Linked DNA regions of Homo sapiens: regions 2, 3, 4, 5 and 6 are each reported to be linked to region 1. The links are microRNA targets in miRTarBase. Many come from high-throughput screens and were not tested one by one. Region 1 holds a microRNA gene; each other region holds the end of a gene's coding sequence.
Evidence for each region. Region 1 holds the annotated microRNA hsa-miR-410-3p (AAUAUAACACAGAUGGCCUGU, at 1,564-1,584, opposite strand). A microRNA usually pairs through its seed, bases 2 to 8, with sites in the 3' UTR of a target mRNA and lowers its output. Matches are read on the target gene's strand: a 7mer-m8 pairs with bases 2 to 8, a 7mer-A1 pairs with bases 2 to 7 and ends in A, and an 8mer does both.

Region 1 (3,134 bases):
ACTGGAGGGAGACCCAAGTGCCACAGGCTGGAGGGACCTAGCCTGTGGGGCGGCCTCTCCAGCAGGGCTGTGGCCCAGGGGCTGGGGAAGAGGGGTGCTGAGGGAGAGTGGGAGCAGGCAGCCCAGAGGGATGGTGCCAGGGATCCCCACTCCCATGCTAGGCATGGAGAGGAGCGGTCCCGAGGAGGAGGACAAGGGGGAGGGCAGGCACAGGCTGTGACTTCCAAGGCAGCGACGTCTCAACTAGGGGATGACGGGAGCCCAGCTCAGGAAGATCTCCCGAGCCCAGGAGCTCACTGATCAACAATGAGTGATAAAGGACAGCCTTAGCTCATTCTTTGGGGTCACTCCTGAGGTGCTCCTTGCCTTCAGCCCTGGACCCTGGGCATGGGCAGCATGTTCTGGAGTCACTAAGTCTCCAGGTCAGCTGCAAACAGGCCTCTGGTCATCTTCCTGTAGTCTGGGCAGGCCAGGGGTGCAAATATGACATAAGCATCGGGTAGCTGAGAGCCAGCCCAGCCTGGGGGATGTGCCAACCGGAAGCAAGGGCATGGCGGGTGCTCCCGCTGACACTGGAATTGGGGATGCCATTCTGTCACACTTCCAAAGCCCCCCAGAACAGAGTGGAGCTGGAAAATTAACAGGCCAAGTGACACAGGTCCTACACAAAGTCCACAGGGTCAACCAGCGCAGAGCCAGCTGCTGCCTGGAGTTGACAGCAAAGAGGAAGGCATCCAAGGTGGGATTCGATATCGGAAAGAGGTTGACTGTATAATATTCATCATATAGAAAGTGAACACCTCACAGGCAACCTATTTCAGGTACCACTGAGCAGCACTGACTCCAGGGAGGAGGCTTCTTCCACAGGGAAGGGCCCTGCCACCCACCCGCCTCCAGGATGGAGGCCAGCACAGGGCTGCAGGTGGAAGTCAAGCGCGTGCTCGGCCACCAGCCATGCCTCTGGGGGCCCACAGGGCGCGCAACCGGACCTCCCCGACATCAGCAGGTGCAGGAATCATGCAGGTGGGATCTGATACTGAAGAGAGGCCGCTCGTGTCTTGTGTGTCATGATTTCTGTGAATGCAACACAGGCCACCTCTCCTCAGGCACCACAAGGAGCAGCACACGCACACGGCCACCCAAGGCACCAGCTCCCACCCAGGGTCTCACAGCACTGAGATGAGCAGAAGGCAGCCCAGGTGCAGGGAATGCATGCAGCCGCCCCCAACATCCTGGCGAGGGGTGGGTGGCCTTCCAGCAGGATGCCTTCCAGCGGGACTAGCTCCCCCGTGTCCTCTGCCTCGATGACACTGGCCATGAAAAACAGACTGAGCCCCGTCACCATTGCTCATCAGCTTCATGACCGCCCCCCACCACAGTGCACAACCCTAGCATCTTCCCCAAAGTCCACATGGCCCCCCGAAAGCTCTCCCAAAATGATTCAATGGCGGGGGTCAGGGGAAAGGATGACAAATGTCACACCAGCCCATGCATTCACGTACCCTGGAAAGTCCCGCCTCAGGCGTGGCGCCCGCACACCACCGGGCGGTAGCGGTACTGAAAACAGGCCATCTGTGTTATATTCGTCATTAATAAAAGCGAACTCATCACAGACAACCTCTTCTCAGGTACCCAGAGTGCCATCGGCTCAAGAACGTGGCTGCCGCGTCCCGTGGTGCCAGCGCTGCCCCCGGGAAGCAGTCCTGAGGACGGATGGGACATCAAAGGTGAGAAGACACAGAGACAGGAAAGAGACCCCTGCCCGGCCCACTCTCGGTGACCAGGCCCCACTGAGGCAGCGACTCCAAAGCACCCGTCCTGCTCCTACCCTCAAAAGGGCTTCATCTCCAACGGGTCCTCCAAGGTGAGATTTGATACTGAGAAAAGATCAACCATGTATTATTCGAAGTCAATAAAGCGAATATAACACGGTCGATCTCCCTTCAAGTACCAGGAAAGGCGCTGAGCTGAAGCGCGATCGGCTCCCCGGCCCGCAGGCCCCACAGGCTGCAGCGGATACGGACGGCTAGTGGACCAGGTGAAGTACATTAGAAACAATTACTTTCCAACTGGTCGACCATCCATCCCCGTACCCCAGAATGGTGCTGATGCCGGCGTCCTTCCCCGAGGTGCCCCAGCCTCCAAGACGGCCTCCCTGGTGGAATTTGATACCGAAAAGGGGTTCACCGAGCAACATTCGTCGTCCAGATGCAAAGTTGCTCGGGTAACCTCTCCCCGAGTACCATGGAGAGGCTCAGATGCTCGGACTAAGGTGAATGCTTGCAGGCGGCTGTGCTTGCAGAAGACCCTCCCCCAAGGGCAGCACAAGGTCTGGGCATTCAGAGCCCAGAGCCTCACACTCTCCAAGGACGTTCCCAATCACCAAGTCCAACGATTCCAACCCCTTCCAGAATGAATCTAGAGACTCTTCCCAGAAGTTGAGTGCAAGACCCAGGTAGGATCTTATACTGAAAAGACGGCAACCTTCCTTGGGCACCTTGCTAAAGATGAAAATGAAACCCTGCTCGCACCCGCTTTTCATTCCCAGACCCTGAGAGGGGGTGACCCTGTAGGGACCCCTGCACAAGCACAGAGCCTCCCTCCCAGCAGAGGATTCCTTTGGCGGGAGCTCAACGGGGCACAACGCTGACCCCAGACCTGCGGTCTCACCAGCACCATCTCCAGCCCACAGAGGCATCACCCCAGGATCCCTCAAAGAGTAACTTCACAGTTATCAACAGCTGGCTGACCATCTGATTAGCCTCATAAAGCAAGTGAGACATTCAAAATAAGGGACTGGGGGGATAAATGCAGCAGAAGAAAGCAGGTGAGTCACAGATGTCTTCTCTTCACAAGGGTCAGGGCAGCCCTGACCTCAGAACCCAACCTTCCCCAGACTCAGAGAACACCCAGAAGGTGCCTCCTGGAGCGGGCAGCCAGCAAGCATCGGGCCAGACGATGGATGCCACAAGCAGAGTCCAGATTCTGTGCCCACCACCCATTCTGTGAACTTTGGAGTGGGACCGACAGCAGAATCCTTTCCCTGACGTTGGCATGAGCTCAGAGAGCCCTCTGCGCCTTGCTACAAGTGGAGCAAGAGGCCAGCCATGCGAGGCCTGCTGTAAAGAAAGAAA
Region 2 (3,000 bases), not on the chromosome of region 1:
GCAATCAATGCTTAAGTGGTATATTTTAGTATATATTACATTTCTGGACAATCTCTCATTGCATTCAATTTTTAGAACTTGTCTTGGGTCTAATAAAACAGAAGAATTAGAGAAGAAAGCCCATGCCACTTTGAGGAATGTAACATAATTGTTTTGTCTGGGTACAAAGGTACGTTACAACACTGGGGGTCTTTAGTCAAGTTCCCATACTAATTGACTCACCAAAGCATACTTCCTTCAGCTACAACTGTAATTGGAACACACAGATTTTACCTGAAGAAAATCCTGTACTTCCAGTTTTAAAAAGCAGACAATTCTATGAAGAAGCAACCATTTAAATATCTAACTATACACATTCAAGTTTTTACAACTTCATGCCTTATGAGGAATTTTGATTTCAGAAGTATCATTCCACAGACTCAGCATCATATATTTATACATATTTCATACAGTATAGTATTAGAAACTGTAAATGGCACAGAATAATCATAATTATCACAAAATTTTATCAATTTCCAGTGATCTTAAAAAGACAAATTATAACCGCCTTTGCTCAGCTAAGATATCCAGTTATGGTTACAACTTTCGAAAATCCTAAAGTTATGTGAAAAAAATTAGTCAAAGAAAATCTGTAAATCTGATACTTTCCAATATTTTAAATATGCACAGCTAAAGAGAAAATAAAGGGGTTGATCTGGCACATGAATAATTAAGTCAATGAATTTTACAACCCTGAGCCACTTTGGCAACTACTTTAGGTTTCACATAATTTTCACAGTCTTAGTACCACCATTTTCATTCAGATAAAAGAAATGACCTTTTGAAATCATGGGCATCAAATTTGGTGCTTATGGACAAGAATCACAACTAGAAGCTAGAGACAAAATGGATCACAGCAAGCACAGTTTCCCTCAAAGAATAAGGAACGCTATAGAATATACAACAGCGATAGTTTAGAAACCTTGGGAAGCTCACATTTCTTTAGTTATTTTGTTTTACTAAACAATTTGAAGTAAGCATTATATTCATGTTTAAAAACAAAGCAAGGAAAAATAAAAAATGAAACAAAAATGCAGCATGGAACATTTTAGGAGTCACAGAAGGTTCTCTTCTTCCCTTTGTTTTGGGCACATTGTCTCACCTGTTTTCACTTTGTTACAAAAGGAAACAAAACCAAATCTCTGCTCAGAGTGGTCATAGTGAGAACACTGAGATTTGCATATGTTTTTCTACTTTCCCATCCATCTAGACCCTGAAATCTAAATAAATATTTCAGTTAAAACTTTTTTTCCATTTGCATGAAGTCTGGGTCACTATATCTCCTACCCTGAATGGGGGAAGATGGGACAGCTATATCTCATACTGAAGCGGTGGCAGCTAAAACCTGGCAACTGCTGCCAGTGTCCCCAATGTGTCTTGCTTATTATTTTTTAAAATGTGACAAAGACAAAAGCTACAGCTGGAAACTCACACAATTTAGAAATATGTTGAAAACTTTTATTATAGTCCTTAGGATTTCCAAGTAAATGCTCCCAAATCAAGTATTACAAAGCTGCTAATTAATTAGCAACTGAAAATTAGCCATTCAAATTATATTGGAAATATTTGCTGAATTGTTTTTATGAAAGCTTCCTCTTGGATTCTGTAAGGATCAGAGTATCTGAATCCACAAACCAGCTAGTTTCAAGAAAGAATTCTTTTGACTAAAACTTACCTTAAAACCAATTTTCCCAACTCTTTTCCTTTTCCCAAATAGTCCAACGTTTTGAGGAGAAATATATGAGGCAGGTTGTTTTATACGGCACTGTACCCTTTAGGAAACCTAACATTTCAGTGAACTGGGAAACTTCACAACATAAACTCTATGTATTTATAGATATTATGACTGCTGTATAATATATACTGTGGGGAAAAAAAAAAAGAAGAAAGAAAAGACTAGCCTGGGCAACATGGCGAAACCCCATCTCTACAAAAAATACAAAAATTAGCTGGGTATGGTGGTGCCTGCCTGTGGTTCCTGCTACATGGGAGGCTGAGGTGGGAGGACTACCTGGGCCCGGGAGGTCAAGGCTGCAGTGAGTCGAGACTTTGCCACTGCACTCCAGCCTGTGCGACGGGGTGAGACCCTGTCTCAAAAAAAAAAAAGAAAAAAGAAAAGTTTTATCAAAGGATAAAACCGAAATGCTATAGTATATAGTGTGACCATAATTTCAGAAGAAGAGAATTAGCATAATTTAAAAGGATAGCTAGCATACTATACGTTTTAATAATTCCAGTATTTTTGTTACTTGGGCTTAATTTAACTTATTTTCCTCTTTTTGATTTTTGTATTTTTAAGAGGGCACTTTTAATTTTCAAGTTGTGTTTGAAACTATAGAGTATGCTAATACAACTTAATATAAATATAAATAATATATAAGCTCTCTCTCTGCATATATACACATATAAACAGACCCAAGCATTAGACCACTGATGTTGTACTTTCAGGATTCACACGAATAAGTCTAGATGCATTCCTCAGATCTTGGAGTTGCTTGGCAGGTTTCCCCACACCTTCTTCAAACCTTTTCTCCACCACAGGGAGGACTGTTTCATATAAAAAGGATGCATTCTGTCTGATAAAAGCTTTCTTCTCTGGATCCTGCTCACATCGAAGACTATAATCCACATGCTGAACAGCAACCAAAATGATTTCCACCAGGCTCTCCAAAAGTACCATGTGCAGCTCTGGGAAATACAGCTTCAGGGCCTCTTCCAAGAAGCCCATGGTCTGTTTGGTGAAAGCAACCACTGTGTAACTTAGGTTCACCCAGCAGTCATCCCCTGTGTACTGCTCAAAGTTACTTACCCCACAACTTTTCATCTCTTCTTTGAGCTTACCCAGGGCTTCTGGCGTCATCAAGTTCATCCTCCTCCACATCTCTTCAGAGTTGCGATGTTTAGTGGCTTCAATGATGATTTCTTTGTAACTGTGCAAGGCCCCTTGGATGTCTTTCACCA
Region 3 (3,134 bases), not on the chromosome of region 1:
CTTGGCTCCCACCACCAAATGCTAATACTAGTGCTCTCTTATAATGGTGATATCCAAAAATGGCCCTAGAGGCCAATGTCACTCCCAATGTCACATGAGGTTCATTTCTGTATTGATTCAAGACAAAGAACAGGAAAACTAAAATTTTTCTATTTATTCCATAAATACTGATGAAAAAGATATTTTATATTATGAAATATTGCATTTCTATCTTTTGAGAACATTTCTAATAAGCCTGTTATTATAATATATGAAAATAACATAGTGTTATGTTAACATTATAACAGATTAATACAGAGATTAATTCTTTTGAATTGCCTGACCTCAACATATCTAAAATCTGGAAAAGAGTATGACATAATCTACAAGGTAATGAAATTCTCATGAATACTTTTAATTTAAATATTTTTCTAAATTTTTTTTACATATTTATAGGTATTATAAATTTTCTTAAAACTATCAGGGGTCTTAGTAACGGTCTTACAAATTTTATGGTTCAAAATGAGAAAGAAAAAATGTAAAAAATAAATGGGAAAAAAGGCAAGAAAGAAAAGAAATATTACTTGTTTAAAAGGATATTTAAAAGAATATATAAAACAGAAAATATATGGAAACAAGTCATGTTTGAACTATGTTGCTACTTCTGCTTCCTCAGAATTAATTTCTGTGGCTCAGTAATTTTAGTGGTCACAGAAATTCACAGAGGTATTTCTTATTCATCTGAGGAATTTGTGGATCCACAGTGATAATAAATTATGAAAAACTTTTAAATCCCGAAGATATACCTTGATGAAAAAAAAAGTTCCCTTAATTCATTCTGTTATTCTATTCATGTTACTAATCACTTCAGGTTTTCTGCAGCATTAAATATGAAACTGGATCAGATCCTGGGAAAATTTTAAGATAAAACACTGAAGACACTGGAAGTATGGGCAGGAGCAAAAAAAACCCAAAAAGCAAAAACCCACAAGCCTATGTATCAACCTAGCCAGTAACAGAAGTTCTTGAAATAAAATCAGTTTAACGTGCCACATGCCACAAGTTATTAATACAATTTTACAAAAAGTAATTCCGAATTTGGAAAGAAAATCCATATTATTTTATTATTATTACTTTAAATTTTATTTTAAGTTCAGGGGTACATGTGCAGGTTTGTTACATAGGTAAACATGTGTCATGGGAGTTTGTTGTACAGATTATTTCATCCCGAGTATTAAGCCTAGTTCCCATTAGTTATTTTTCCTATATTTTAAAGGATTATGATTTTATTGCTTTGGGGGACATTTATTTATCCACTCTTCAAATATTCAGAAAACCTTCTTCATGCAACCTAATCTCACAGAGTCTAAATTAATGGTTTTTCTATATACTTCTCAAAAGTCCTCTTTTAAAAACACAGTTTTCATTTATTTAAAAATATATAATTTTAACCTGGAAACCATCATTCTCAGCAAACTAACACAGGAACAGAAAACCAAACACCGCATGTTCTCACTTAGAAGTGGGAGTTGAACAATGAAAACACATGGACACAGGGAGGGGAACATCACACAATGGGGCCTGTCCAGGGGTGGGGGGCTAGGGGAGGGAGAGCATTAGGAGAAATACCTAATGTAGATGGGTTGACAGGTGCCGCAAACCACCATGGCACGTGTATACCTATGTAACAAACCTGCACATTCTGCACATGTACCCCAGAACTTAAGGTATAATTTAAATATATATATATATAATTTTAACGGCGGAAGGGAGCTCTAAAGATTTCAGTATAACTTTCTGTCCCCCCTAAAAATCTTAATTAACTGTGGCCCAGGACATCTAGAAATTCTCTCAAAAAACAGAAGAGAAAAAAATTTTAATCACTTCCCTTGGGAACTCATTTTAATGCCTACCAGCACATTAGTCAGGGATAGTCTCTAAATTACAGTTTCACCATTATGTAGATATGTCCAGTAAGCTTTTAAATGATTTTTGGAGCAACAGTGCAATTGGTGATAATTGAGGAAGTTGATCCCCAAGTCCTTAAACGACCTTTCACAGGACAAATCTAGAAACCCTTGTTATAACAGGAGGCCACACGTTCTTTTTCTCTTGATTTCTAGACAGATGACTTCCTACCAGAGTTATGATACCCTAGAAAAATTTTTAACTATTCTCTCCCCTTATCAGTTTTTATCAGGGCATGAGATGAATGGGACATCTAACCTGGTTAGCGAAGGAGAGTTTGTGTCTTTGGAGCTGGGTGGTGGCCAGAATTTACTTACCTAAGGTGAAGTGGGATGAAAAGAACTAAAGGTCTGAGTTCAGTCCAAAACCTAAGAGACCATGCTTCAAACAGAGGAACTTAGAATGAGCTAATGAAACTCTAAAACTCTTAAAACCTATGTTGCTTTCATGGGCCACACAGACATTCTGTACTGGAAAATAATGTAATATTGCAACTCCAGGTGGATTCAACAACACTGGTCTTTGTACGGCCATCACTCAGAGATGGGAGGGATCCCATAAGGACTACAATGAGGGCTCTTGCATTTTATAGTCCTTTTGTTTTGGGTACATCAAGGCATGGTTTTGATCAAGTAATGAAATACCATTCTTACCTCCCCTATACCCATTTTTATTCCCAATATAAAGGAAGCAAATATGAATACTGTAGTTTGTGGCTAACGGCACAAAACACAATTCCATAAGCCAATTATCTTTTGCTTAAACCAATGGCTTCCCCCAAAGACAAAGAGAAGCAAATCATAGCAGCTAATTGCTGTTACACTCAAGAAGATTTCGTTATAAAATGCAACCTTGCTGTTACAGGCATTGGAATGCGTCACAACATTCAAGTAATAGATCCTAAAGAACTGGTAGGGAAGGAAACAAACAAGGATGACCCCTATAAAAAATAGGTTTTTCAGCTGAGCCCAGAACTCCTGGTGGGATAGTAAAGAGTGGCGTAGCTTCTGCACCATCAACATAATGATGAAGACCTGGAAGACCAACAGAATCACAGCAACGGCTATGACAAAAATGACTATCATATAGTTGATGATTTTCACATATGTGTAAGCAAGCTCTTTGTGAAATTTAAAACAGTGCTCCTCATTGTATTCCTCATGGATTCCATACCGGGAGACAACCAG
Region 4 (3,134 bases), not on the chromosome of region 1:
TTTAAGTTATTTAAGCTTTTACTAGCCTGTAACAACTGAAAAAGTGTGTTTTACACCCTAAAGGTGCAGCTGAGGACCTGTGCCCATGCCTGGCCCCCAGGGACTATTCTCAGAGCTCACCCGCGGTGTGAGCCTGGGGCAAGTTTCCAGACCCAACACACCAGGCTCTGGCCTCAGGCCTGCCTCCCAGCAGCCTCTGCCCCCACCCTGCCCACCACCAGTCTGAAGGAAGAGGCGCGGAGTCGTGGGGAAAACATCCACTTTAAGCTTTATTACAACACATTGTCTCCAAATACAAAGGGAGGGGCCGGGAGCAGAAGGTGCGGCTGTGGCGGGAGGGGCTCCAAGGGGGGCTGAAGGGCCGGCAGCCCAGTCTACAGAGACTGGAGGCTCAGCGGGGGACCTGCACCCTCTCCTCCGCTGGACTTCCCAGCAAATAACAGGAGGGGCCGGGTCCATTTTGGGGCGATCCCAATGCCAGGCAGTGGCCAGGTGGGAGGGGCCGGAGAGAGGCTTGGAGAGGACTCAGGGCTGGGTCAGGTGAAAGCCACCAGGTGGGGCCCTGGCCCGCCTCCCGCAGCACTGGAGGAGGCAGTGGCCAGGTGGGAGGGGCCGGAGAGAGGCTTGGAGAGGACTCAGGGCTGGGTCAGGTGAAAGCCACCAGGTGGGGCCTCAGCCCGCCTCCTGCAGCACTGGAGGAGGCAGTGGCCAACACAGGACCTTCGCCCCCCTGCTGGCTGCTCACTTTGCGGTAACCAGTGCCTCAAGAGTGGGAGCAGAGACAGACTGAGACAGACAGCCCCCCTCAACGGCCTGCAGAAGGGACAAGGGGAAGGGGGAAGGGAGAAGGGGGCCCAACCAGTGGCCCCAGACCACTGTCTCCCGGACAGCACAGGGGTGGGGGGCGAGAAGCGGGAAGCCAGTGCATCCTCCTCACCCAGGGTCTCCTCAGAAACCCAACGCAACAGACATATGGGAGGCAAATTTACATAATTAATAATAATTAACCAATAATAATAAATACTTAAACCTCTAATCCATAGATTGCAAATACAACGATAGCTTATTTTCTTGGGGGAACAGGAGTGGGTGGGGACAGAGGGAACGGGAACAGGACTTTTGCTGAAAGGAGGGATGACAGGAACACAGAGCTGTGGGTGAAAAGAAGAACAAATAGAAGAAACAGCAGAGAGGGCGGCTGGCTGGGGCGGGATGGGCGCCTCCCTGGCCCTGCTCCAGGACTCAGGACTGGGTCCTGCCCTGGGCTGCCTCTCCGGCCAAGCCCCTGGCCTCTTCCCACAGTGACTGGCCCCACTCCTAGACCCTAGGACATCTGAAGGGCAGGGGTCCCAATGGCCCGAGGGGGTATGGGGCAGGGGCAGCAGGCTGACCCACCTGGGCCCAAAAGCCACTTGTGTTTGGGGGCTGGCATGCCACCTAGAGAGAGAGCACCCTGGGAAAGGGGTGAATGGGAGTTTCTCTCCTGAGCGGCCCCATGGGGGTGGGGGCAAACGAGGGGGCTTTACCTGTCTTGAGGCAGTGCTCCCTAAGTGAAGCAGGCCTATCCCAGCAGCACAGGGGCTTGGCTGGCGCCTGAACTCCCTGTGTGAGCAGCACCTGCTCACAGAGCCCCTCAGCCTGCAGGTGCACACCTGAATTCCAAGTTCTGCCTGGGGCATGGCTGGGAGGGGGGCGGGGCAGACCTGGAACAGAACCCTAAGACCACCCCCTCCTCATACCTGGGGGTCCAGGGCTTCCTGCCCAGTGGAGCCAGCACTGGCTAGCCAGGCGCCTCCTGCCTGACCCCCGGAGGCCAAGCTCCTCTCCTGCAATGGTGCCACCCTGCCCGGCAGGCAGCTCTGGGGGCATGGGCAAGGGAGAAGGGAGGGCCGCAGCCCTCTAGGAATGGCCTTTCTGAGCCACTCTGTGGCTGGACTGGGGCTCTGGCAGGAGTTGGGGGCACTAACACCTCTGTCCTCCCCTGGGCTGCACCTCATCTGACGTTCCAGAACCCCCTGCCCGAAGCCCCTACACACACTGTTCTATTTCTCAGCCCCTCTGAACACCCTGGCACCATGAAGCCCAATGCCTGTCCTCCCCTGCCAGAGAACAGCTCTGGGGCAACGGGCAGCGGGGTGCCCTCCTTGCCACCAAGATTTGGTGCCTGGAGCTGATGGAGGGCTGGCCGCACCTCTCCGGGGCACACCAGCTCCTGCTCCTCCATCCTATGGCTTTGGTGCAGAGCCCTAGGCCGGCGCAGAGAAGGGAGGGAGCAGGGGAGGTGGGTGGGGGGAGAAGGGGGGTTCTGCGGCTCAGTTTGTGGCAAAGAAGTTTTTTTTTCCTTTTTTTCACCTTTTTGTTATGTAAAAAGTGCACGAAAGCTCGGCAGCCTTTGCAAAGGTCAGCAGTGTTTCCTGGGGCGGGGGAACTGGGAGGGGCCCCAGGCCTGGCACCCAGCTTGCGACTGAAGGTGGCCTCGTATTGCTTAGAAACGTATGTTTCAGTTTAAATACCAGACAGTAAAAATAGAGCTCGAGGACCACCCGCACTGTTGCCAAATCATTGCCAGAATGAACAGCTTAAATAAATAAAAAATCGAAATATTTACTTCTCGATAAAAATCCCAGTAAAACCATTTACCTTTCTTTGCATTATATATAATATACATTTATAACGGGCCTGGCTGCGGGCGGCGGGGCCGAGGGCAGCGGAGGGGTCAGGACACCTCGATGACCTCCACGCTGCCCGAGAAGCTCGCCTGCTTGCCCAGGGCGGCCAGCTCCTCGCCGCGCGCGCGCCCCTCCACCATGCCCTCCTCGAACTCCATCTGGCAGCTGCGGCGCTTGAACTGCGTCTCCGGGGCCGGCTCCTCGGGCCAGCCGGTCCGCGCGTCCCGGGGCTCAGCCCTCGCTGCCTCCCGCCGCCGCAGGTCGCTGCCGCCGCCTGGTCCCGGGGCGCCCGCCCGGCCGAAGGGCGCAAACAGCACCCCGCCCGCCCCCTGTGCGCCCTCGGGGCTGAAGCACCAGGGCCCGTCGGGCGACGGCGTGCCTGGGGAGTCGAGCGGCGGTGCCCAGGCCCCGGGGCCGGCCGGCTGGCCAGGGCCGGGCAGCCCGGGCGCCGACAGGGCCGAGAGG
Region 5 (3,088 bases), not on the chromosome of region 1:
TTCTAACTAAAATGAATGCATTAAACCCTTTGGTTAGAAAAAAATTATATTGTAAGCCATTACTGATTGTTCTAATCCTGTTGAGTGCGCTAACTCTGATCTTCTGATTGAATCAGATCTTGATTTTGCCAGCCTTGCTCGAGGTTTTGCCCTGCTGAGGATGCCCAAGATGCCAGAATTGAGAGGAAAGCAGTTTCCAGATTTTGTGCCCGTGGACGTTAATACCGACACGATTCCATTTAAAGATAAAATCAGAGAAAAGCAGAGGCAGAAACTCCTGGAGCAACAAAGAAGAGAGAAAACAGAAAATGAAGGGAGAAGAAAATTCATAAAAAATAAAGCTTGGTCAAAGCAGAAGGCCAAAAAAGAAAAGAAGAAAAAAATGAATGAGAAAAGGAAAAGGGAAGAGGTAAAGTTTACTTTTACTTACATTAACTTAGAATCTTGAACAAATTTATTGTAGTAGTTCTTTAAATAGGAATTGTGTGGGGCTGTCAGATTTCTGTTACGTTGGCGACCAGGGTGGGGAATTTGCTCTATTTGCAGAAGCCAATCTGAGAGCTTATAGTTCTTGAGTTAAAACTGCTGGTTTCACTACAACACTATTGCTGAAAAATTTAGTAGTTTATTGGTTTCTTCTGCACTTAGGGTTCTGATATTGAAGATGAGGACATGGAAGAACTTCTTAATGACACAAGACTCTTGAAAAAACTTAAGAAAGGCAAAATAACTGAAGAAGAATTTGAGAAGGGCTTGTTGACAACTGGCAAAAGAACAATCAAGACAGTGGATTTAGGGATCTCAGATTTGGAAGATGACTGCTGATTCCAGTGCCACAGATGAACCCACAAGGACATAGCTGTTCCCTAACTTGGTGGATGGCTCCAGTTTGCTTTTAACGAAAATCACAACTTCAGGAGACATCTGAAAAGAATGATGTCTCTGAAAGCTGTCCTTTCAGATGAGGGAGAAATGAAGGATTTCACACTTCAGAATATTTTACTAAAAACATTCCAGTCTTGGCCGGGTGCGGTGGCTCCTGCCTATAATCCCAGCACTTTGGGAGGCTGAGGCAGGAGGATCACTTGAGCCCAGGAGTTCAAGACCAGCCTGGGAACACAGCGAGACCCTCTCATTAAAAACAACAAAACAAAACAATTCCAGTCTTGGAGTAGTCTAACAGAAGAAAATGTAAAATTATTTGAGTGTAAATAATAGATGTCAGTATTTATCATGATGGGTCACATATAGACATATGTACATATTATATATATATATATATATATATATATATATATATATATATATATATAAGCTCTTTTTTCTGAGGCTATTTTATAGTTATTTTTAAACATAAAGATACAGAAGTCTTCTTGACTTCTGATTTTCAAAACCATTCCTCAGTATCTTCAGGCATTTGACCTCCTGAATGTGCTTGGCCCTGGGCTTCAGTTATCCTTTGATGTCCTGCAGGGGTGGCTAATGTGCTGGGGTTTTTCTGTGTTAATAGTCACAGTATTGTTTTATTGGTGAATAGCTGAAAAACAGAGGGATTAAGTCATATTCCGGGAAAGAGAATTATAGTTTTTATGCCTCCTGTTGAATAAATGGTGTCCTGATTGCCTGGGTCTTAAGTGTGTAAATGTAGCTGGACAGTGTTTTCCCCTAGATGGCCTGGTCAGCTTGCAGTATTGATGCAACACCACATCAGCGTCTTTCATAGAGTTTATTTGAAAAGATGCTGAATTTATTCCCAAGTATAATTTTAAAAAGCTGTTTAGGACCCAAACATATTTAAACATCTCTTACACATACAGAATTTCAGTTTACAAATATTCCAGAAGGCATTTTCTTAAGCAGTGAACCATGCAGAATACTGTTGCTAAACATCGTTTCTGCCTTCCTCGTGTTCTCTTGGTAGTTTTTACTGTTTGGCTTGATCCTGCTGAGGAATGTGCTTACCACTGGAAGCCAGATGCAGATTCAGCAAGTGTTTCTTGCCTCTTACAAGGCACCGCGTGTAACGTCCTGACCAGCTGTTGGTCATTTGTGGCAGAGGGGTGTGGCTGCTTTTCGCCTGCATCTCGCGTGCTTTAGGCAGATCAGTCTGGAGTGCAGGGGAGGATGAAGACAGGTGGACTTGGGCTCATCTTTCATCAGTTAAGTAGCCAATTATCTAACTTGTATTTCTGGAAACTGAAAAGGAAAGTTTCTAGAAACCGTAAGAACAATTTAAGTTGGGATTTAGAATAGCTGACACATTTTTAGATGGGACTGAAATGAGTAAGAAAGGTTCTCCAAGATGTATGATTTTAAGTCCTTACTCCATAAATCTTCATTAAACACATCTCAGTTTTGGCCTGACTCACTGGGGTGTCAAGCAGCTACTCACCCTGCCTCAACTACGTAAGCTGCACCTTGGCAGGAAAGGGCTCACAGGTTACAGATAGAGCTTGATGAGCTCATCGCTGACTGCTGAGGGTGTCAGCACGCCCAGGTCTGTAAACAGCAGAGTGATTAAGGAAGGGGCAGTGTAGTCGACCCACGGATGCTCCTCTTTGAGGTCTTGTCCAGTCTGCGCGACCTTGAGAGTGTCTGCCTTATACTGAGGAGAGAAGTACACATTAGTCGGCACTGAATATTTAGTGCTCTGACCTGGTAGGGCCTTGGTGTGAGTGATCAGTGTGCTACTTCCTGAGACTGCTCTCTGAAAATGGGAGAAACTAAGCTATGCAGGACACTAGAGACGAGGGCAGAGTTGTGGCCATGAGCCAGATCATGGCAGTGTGCTGGCTGAGAGCTGTAGTGTAACAAACTTAAATCCCATGTCCCCTCATTCTCATGCCGGATTAACTTCTCCAGACCTCTCAAGGGAAGATCGAGAGTCACAATAGAGAGCTTGCAGCGTGCCAGGGACTGTGCTAAGATTATCTTAGAATCCTCATGACCCTGTCAGATACTGCTATGCCATTTTACAGACAAGAAAACCGGTTCAGAGGTTGAAATGAAAGGACTTGCCTCAACTCGCACAGTTTGTAAGTTGTGGTGATGGGAGCTGAGCTCAGTTAAGCCCAAAGCTGGGACTTAC
Region 6 (3,134 bases), not on the chromosome of region 1:
TATGATACATTTCTGATGTTTACAAGCCACCCCCCAGACTATGGTACTTTATTATAGCAGTCCAAACTAAGACACGTTCCAAGACTTTCACATCATAGGTATTTCTTCCTATTTTTATATTTGGCTCTGTTCTTCAGACAATGTCAGATGTAAATAGGCAAAACTATAATTTGACATAAGCTTTTAGTGGTAAAAGTGTTTAAGTTTAAATATGTATATATTTACTATCTGGCCTTTTATATAAAAAACTTGACCCGAGGTAGATTATTGAAACTTCCACAATAAAATGACTTCTTCAAAACTTTTCTTCCATATTTATGTAATACTTCACTTACTTGACTACTTTCCCCACATTTAAATATATACATATTTAAACTTCATGAAATATATTTACATTTCATGAGTATAAATTGCATGTATCTCATGTACATCCCAATTATCTTTGCTACGACATACATATAACAAAGATAACTAGGATGTACATGAAAAGATTATCAAGGTACTCACCAAAAATCTTTATAGTTACTATTCTGGATGGTAGAATAAAGAATGTTTTATATTTTTTTCTTTTGGAATTTGAATTTTATATTGACTATGTATCATTCTTACAAACAAAAAATTTAAAGCTATTTTCACCTTGAAAAATAAAAAAACACTAGAAAATTTTGTCAGCAAATCTTTCAAAAATTCACAAGGAAAAAACTTATCACCTGAGGGTACGAAAAAATGTGGAAGAATTTCATTAGGCAGTAGAGGACTTATTGATGACAATTTCAAATTTGATAAGTCTAGGGGAAAACAACCAAACAAACATGCAAAGCTGACCAATAAAGTCAGCAGTGCTATTCCTTTCCTTCCTTATGTTTCTAAACAAACCATAAAATATACAACAGATGTACTACTCACTGGCCATTGTCCTGTAGCATACAAACATGACATTATTTTTTCTTCCACATAATTCATTTATTTGATAAGCACTTAGGAACACCCACTATGCTCACGTACTGTTGTAGGGGCTGAGGCAAAATGGTGACTAAGACTGAGAGTATCTGCTCTCACAATGCTTAATAATCTAGTGGGGAAAGGAGCCAATAAGTAAAGCATTACATAAATATAGCAGAAAACTTTAGAAGAAGTTATTTTATTCTATAAGTTTCAATAATGTACTTTAGGTGTCAAATTTTTTATGTAGAAGGCCAGACAGTAAATATTTTAAGCTTTGTGGGCCACACAGCCTTTGTGCAACTATTCATCTCTGCCACTCTAATGTGAAAACCGCCACAGCCAGCCCATATACAATTAGAGTGTGACTGTGTTCTAATAAAATTTTATCTATGAAAACAGGGGTGAGATAGATCTGACTCACTGGCCATAGTTTGGCACCCCAGATCTATTTTAAAAGCTAACAATAACCACAAAATAAAATCCTAAAAGTTTTTCAAAGCATAATTGAAAGCATGTAGACCTAGCAGTAGAACTAGTTCAGTTGGTGTTTTCCTGTGTTCTGAAGCCACTGAATTGCTTATACCAAAATCACTTTTATTTCAAATTTTCTATGACTTTGGAAAAAGATCCTAAGAAATAACTAATAACTTAGGACAAAGAGTACACCTTTAAAGCTGCTTCTGTATTTAAAGACTCTGTGGACTTAAAATCATATCTGAATTCTCTTCATGGTTCTGTCAATAATTTGATGCAAAATAATGATGAAAAAATTTAAGTTTGGTTTCTGGATCTTTAAAAACTTTTAGAAGGGTACTACCAACTAACTCCATAGCAGCCAACATGAATAAGTTTTCACTGGAACCCACTGAGGATCTCAGGGCTCTAGTGAATATTCTCTGGTAAACAGAATGTGGCTAGCCTTCTCTTCAAACTAAAGAGATTTTTTTTTTCTTTTTTTGAGATGGAGTATCACTCTGTCACCCAGGCTGCAGTGCAGTGGCGTGATCTCGGCTCACTGCAACCTCTGCCTCCTGGGATCAAGGGATTCAGTCTCAGGAGTTGCTAAGACTACAGGCGCACACCACCACGCCCAACTAATTTTTTGTATTTTTAGTAGAGATGGGGTTTCACCACGTTGGCCAGGCTGGTCTGGAACTCCTAGCCTCAAGTGATCCTCCCATCTCTGCCTCCCAAAGTGCTGGAATTACAGGTGTAAGCCACCGTGCCCAGCCCTAAAGAGATCTTTTAATTTCAAAAGAAAAACATGTTTGTTGGAAGAAATAAACTAAACAAAACTGTAAAAAGTAAAAGCCCCTCTCCTAGTTGTTGAGTTTATCAGTTTACTTAAAAAATGGCTGTCGCTTATGCCTGTAATCCCAGCACTTTGTGGGGCTAAGGCGGGAGGACTGCTTGAGACCAGCAGTTTGGGACCATCCTGGGCAACATAGCAAGACCCGTCTCTCCAAAAAAAAAAAAAAAAAAAAAAAAATTGCCAGGTGTGATGGTGCACATCTGTAGTCCCGGCTACAAGGGAGGCTAAGGCAGGAAGACTGCTTGAGCCCAGCAGTTCGAGGCTGCTGTGAGATATGATCCCACCACTGCACTTGAGCCTCGGTGGCAGTGCAAAATCCTGTCTCTAAAAACAAAAACCAACAAAAAAAGGCATCTTACTTTCTATGTGGTCCTGAAATTTTTTTCAATTAATGTCAATGACTTTTAATTGTTCTCTTGGTTATCTAACAAGAATCAATAGAAGACTTTTACAAATTAAATGTTATAGAAAATTCTTTAACCAACTCAGTTTAATTCTAAACAGCTTCATGATAAAAAAAAAAAAAAACTTCCTTATATTTCCCAGTAATAAGAGGTTACTGTACGTCAAAAACAAAGGGTTGCAACACTTACTGATATATTGTAGTTTAATAAAACATAGTTTATACAGTTCATTGAAAAAGTATTTTAATACAAACACCACTTATACACAAAACCAAATGTTGATATTCTTGTTTTTAAAAATTCTTGATTTCTCTAAAACACTAAGATGCTATCTCAATAGAGATTGCTTCACATTTTCCAGTTTCTTGATCTGTGCATGTCACATGTAAAGATCCATCCCTAAACAGACAAAAAAATAAAGAACATTGCACAAGCTCATTTTATAAAAACATAAAGTCTGTAACAAGTTACTT

Region 2: miRTarBase lists EXOC8 as a target of hsa-miR-410-3p. Seed matches in the 3' UTR shown: 7mer-A1 at 2,413-2,419.
Region 3: miRTarBase lists GPR141 as a target of hsa-miR-410-3p. Seed matches in the 3' UTR shown: 7mer-A1 at 1,727-1,733, 7mer-A1 at 1,418-1,424 and 7mer-A1 at 589-595.
Region 4: miRTarBase lists DUSP8 as a target of hsa-miR-410-3p. Seed matches in the 3' UTR shown: 7mer-A1 at 2,655-2,661.
Region 5: the mRNA of EIF2B1 is a reported target of hsa-miR-410-3p. Seed matches in the 3' UTR shown: 7mer-A1 at 1,308-1,314.
Region 6: miRTarBase lists HSPA14 as a target of hsa-miR-410-3p. The part of its 3' UTR that is shown has no 7-base or 8-base seed match.

Annotation. Positions count from the first base shown.
Region 1 is chr14:101,064,411-101,067,544 of GRCh38, reverse strand. MIR410 (microRNA 410) reads right to left here and starts at 1,633; the gene lies at 1,554-1,633. MIR541 (microRNA 541) reads right to left here and starts at 3,050; the gene lies at 2,967-3,050. It overlaps MIR409 (microRNA 409), which reads right to left and starts at 2,245; the gene lies at 2,167-2,245. MIR412 (microRNA 412) reads right to left here and starts at 2,098; the gene lies at 2,008-2,098. It also overlaps MIR369 and MIR656.
Region 2 is chr1:231,333,107-231,336,106 of GRCh38, forward strand. EXOC8 (exocyst complex component 8) reads right to left here. Exons shown (of 1, transcript NM_175876.5): 1 at 1-3,000. The coding sequence ends at 2,462. Among named protein-coding and RNA genes, the nearest start is that of EXOC8, 3.2 kb to the right of the region's middle.
Region 3 is chr7:37,740,841-37,743,974 of GRCh38, reverse strand. It overlaps GPR141 (G protein-coupled receptor 141), which reads right to left. Exons shown (of 3, transcript NM_001381946.1): 3 at 140-3,134. The coding sequence ends at 2,664. Among named protein-coding and RNA genes, the nearest start is that of GPR141, 59 kb to the right of the region's middle.
Region 4 is chr11:1,553,802-1,556,935 of GRCh38, forward strand. DUSP8 (dual specificity phosphatase 8) reads right to left here. Exons shown (of 7, transcript NM_004420.3): 7 at 250-3,134. The coding sequence ends at 2,717. It overlaps LOC124902608, which reads right to left and starts at 1,679. Exons shown (of 2, transcript XM_047427956.1): 1 at 1,148-1,679; 2 at 806-879. The coding sequence starts at 1,679. The coding sequence ends at 806. RefSeq lists an enhancer at 1,566-2,363.
Region 5 is chr12:123,619,316-123,622,403 of GRCh38, forward strand. It overlaps EIF2B1 (eukaryotic translation initiation factor 2B subunit alpha), which reads right to left. Exons shown (of 9, transcript NM_001414.4): 9 at 1,091-2,605. The coding sequence ends at 2,441. It overlaps DDX55 (DEAD-box helicase 55), which reads left to right. Exons shown (of 14, transcript NM_020936.3): 13 at 117-409; 14 at 649-1,628. The coding sequence ends at 825. Among named protein-coding and RNA genes, the nearest start is that of SNORA9B, 4.2 kb to the left of the region's middle. RefSeq lists an enhancer at 2,062-3,088.
Region 6 is chr10:14,871,454-14,874,587 of GRCh38, reverse strand. It overlaps HSPA14 (heat shock protein family A (Hsp70) member 14), which reads right to left. Exons shown (of 14, transcript NM_016299.4): 14 at 2,847-3,060. The coding sequence ends at 2,982. It also overlaps a transcript of SUV39H2-DT not described here. Among named protein-coding and RNA genes, the nearest start is that of SUV39H2-DT, 5.6 kb to the left of the region's middle.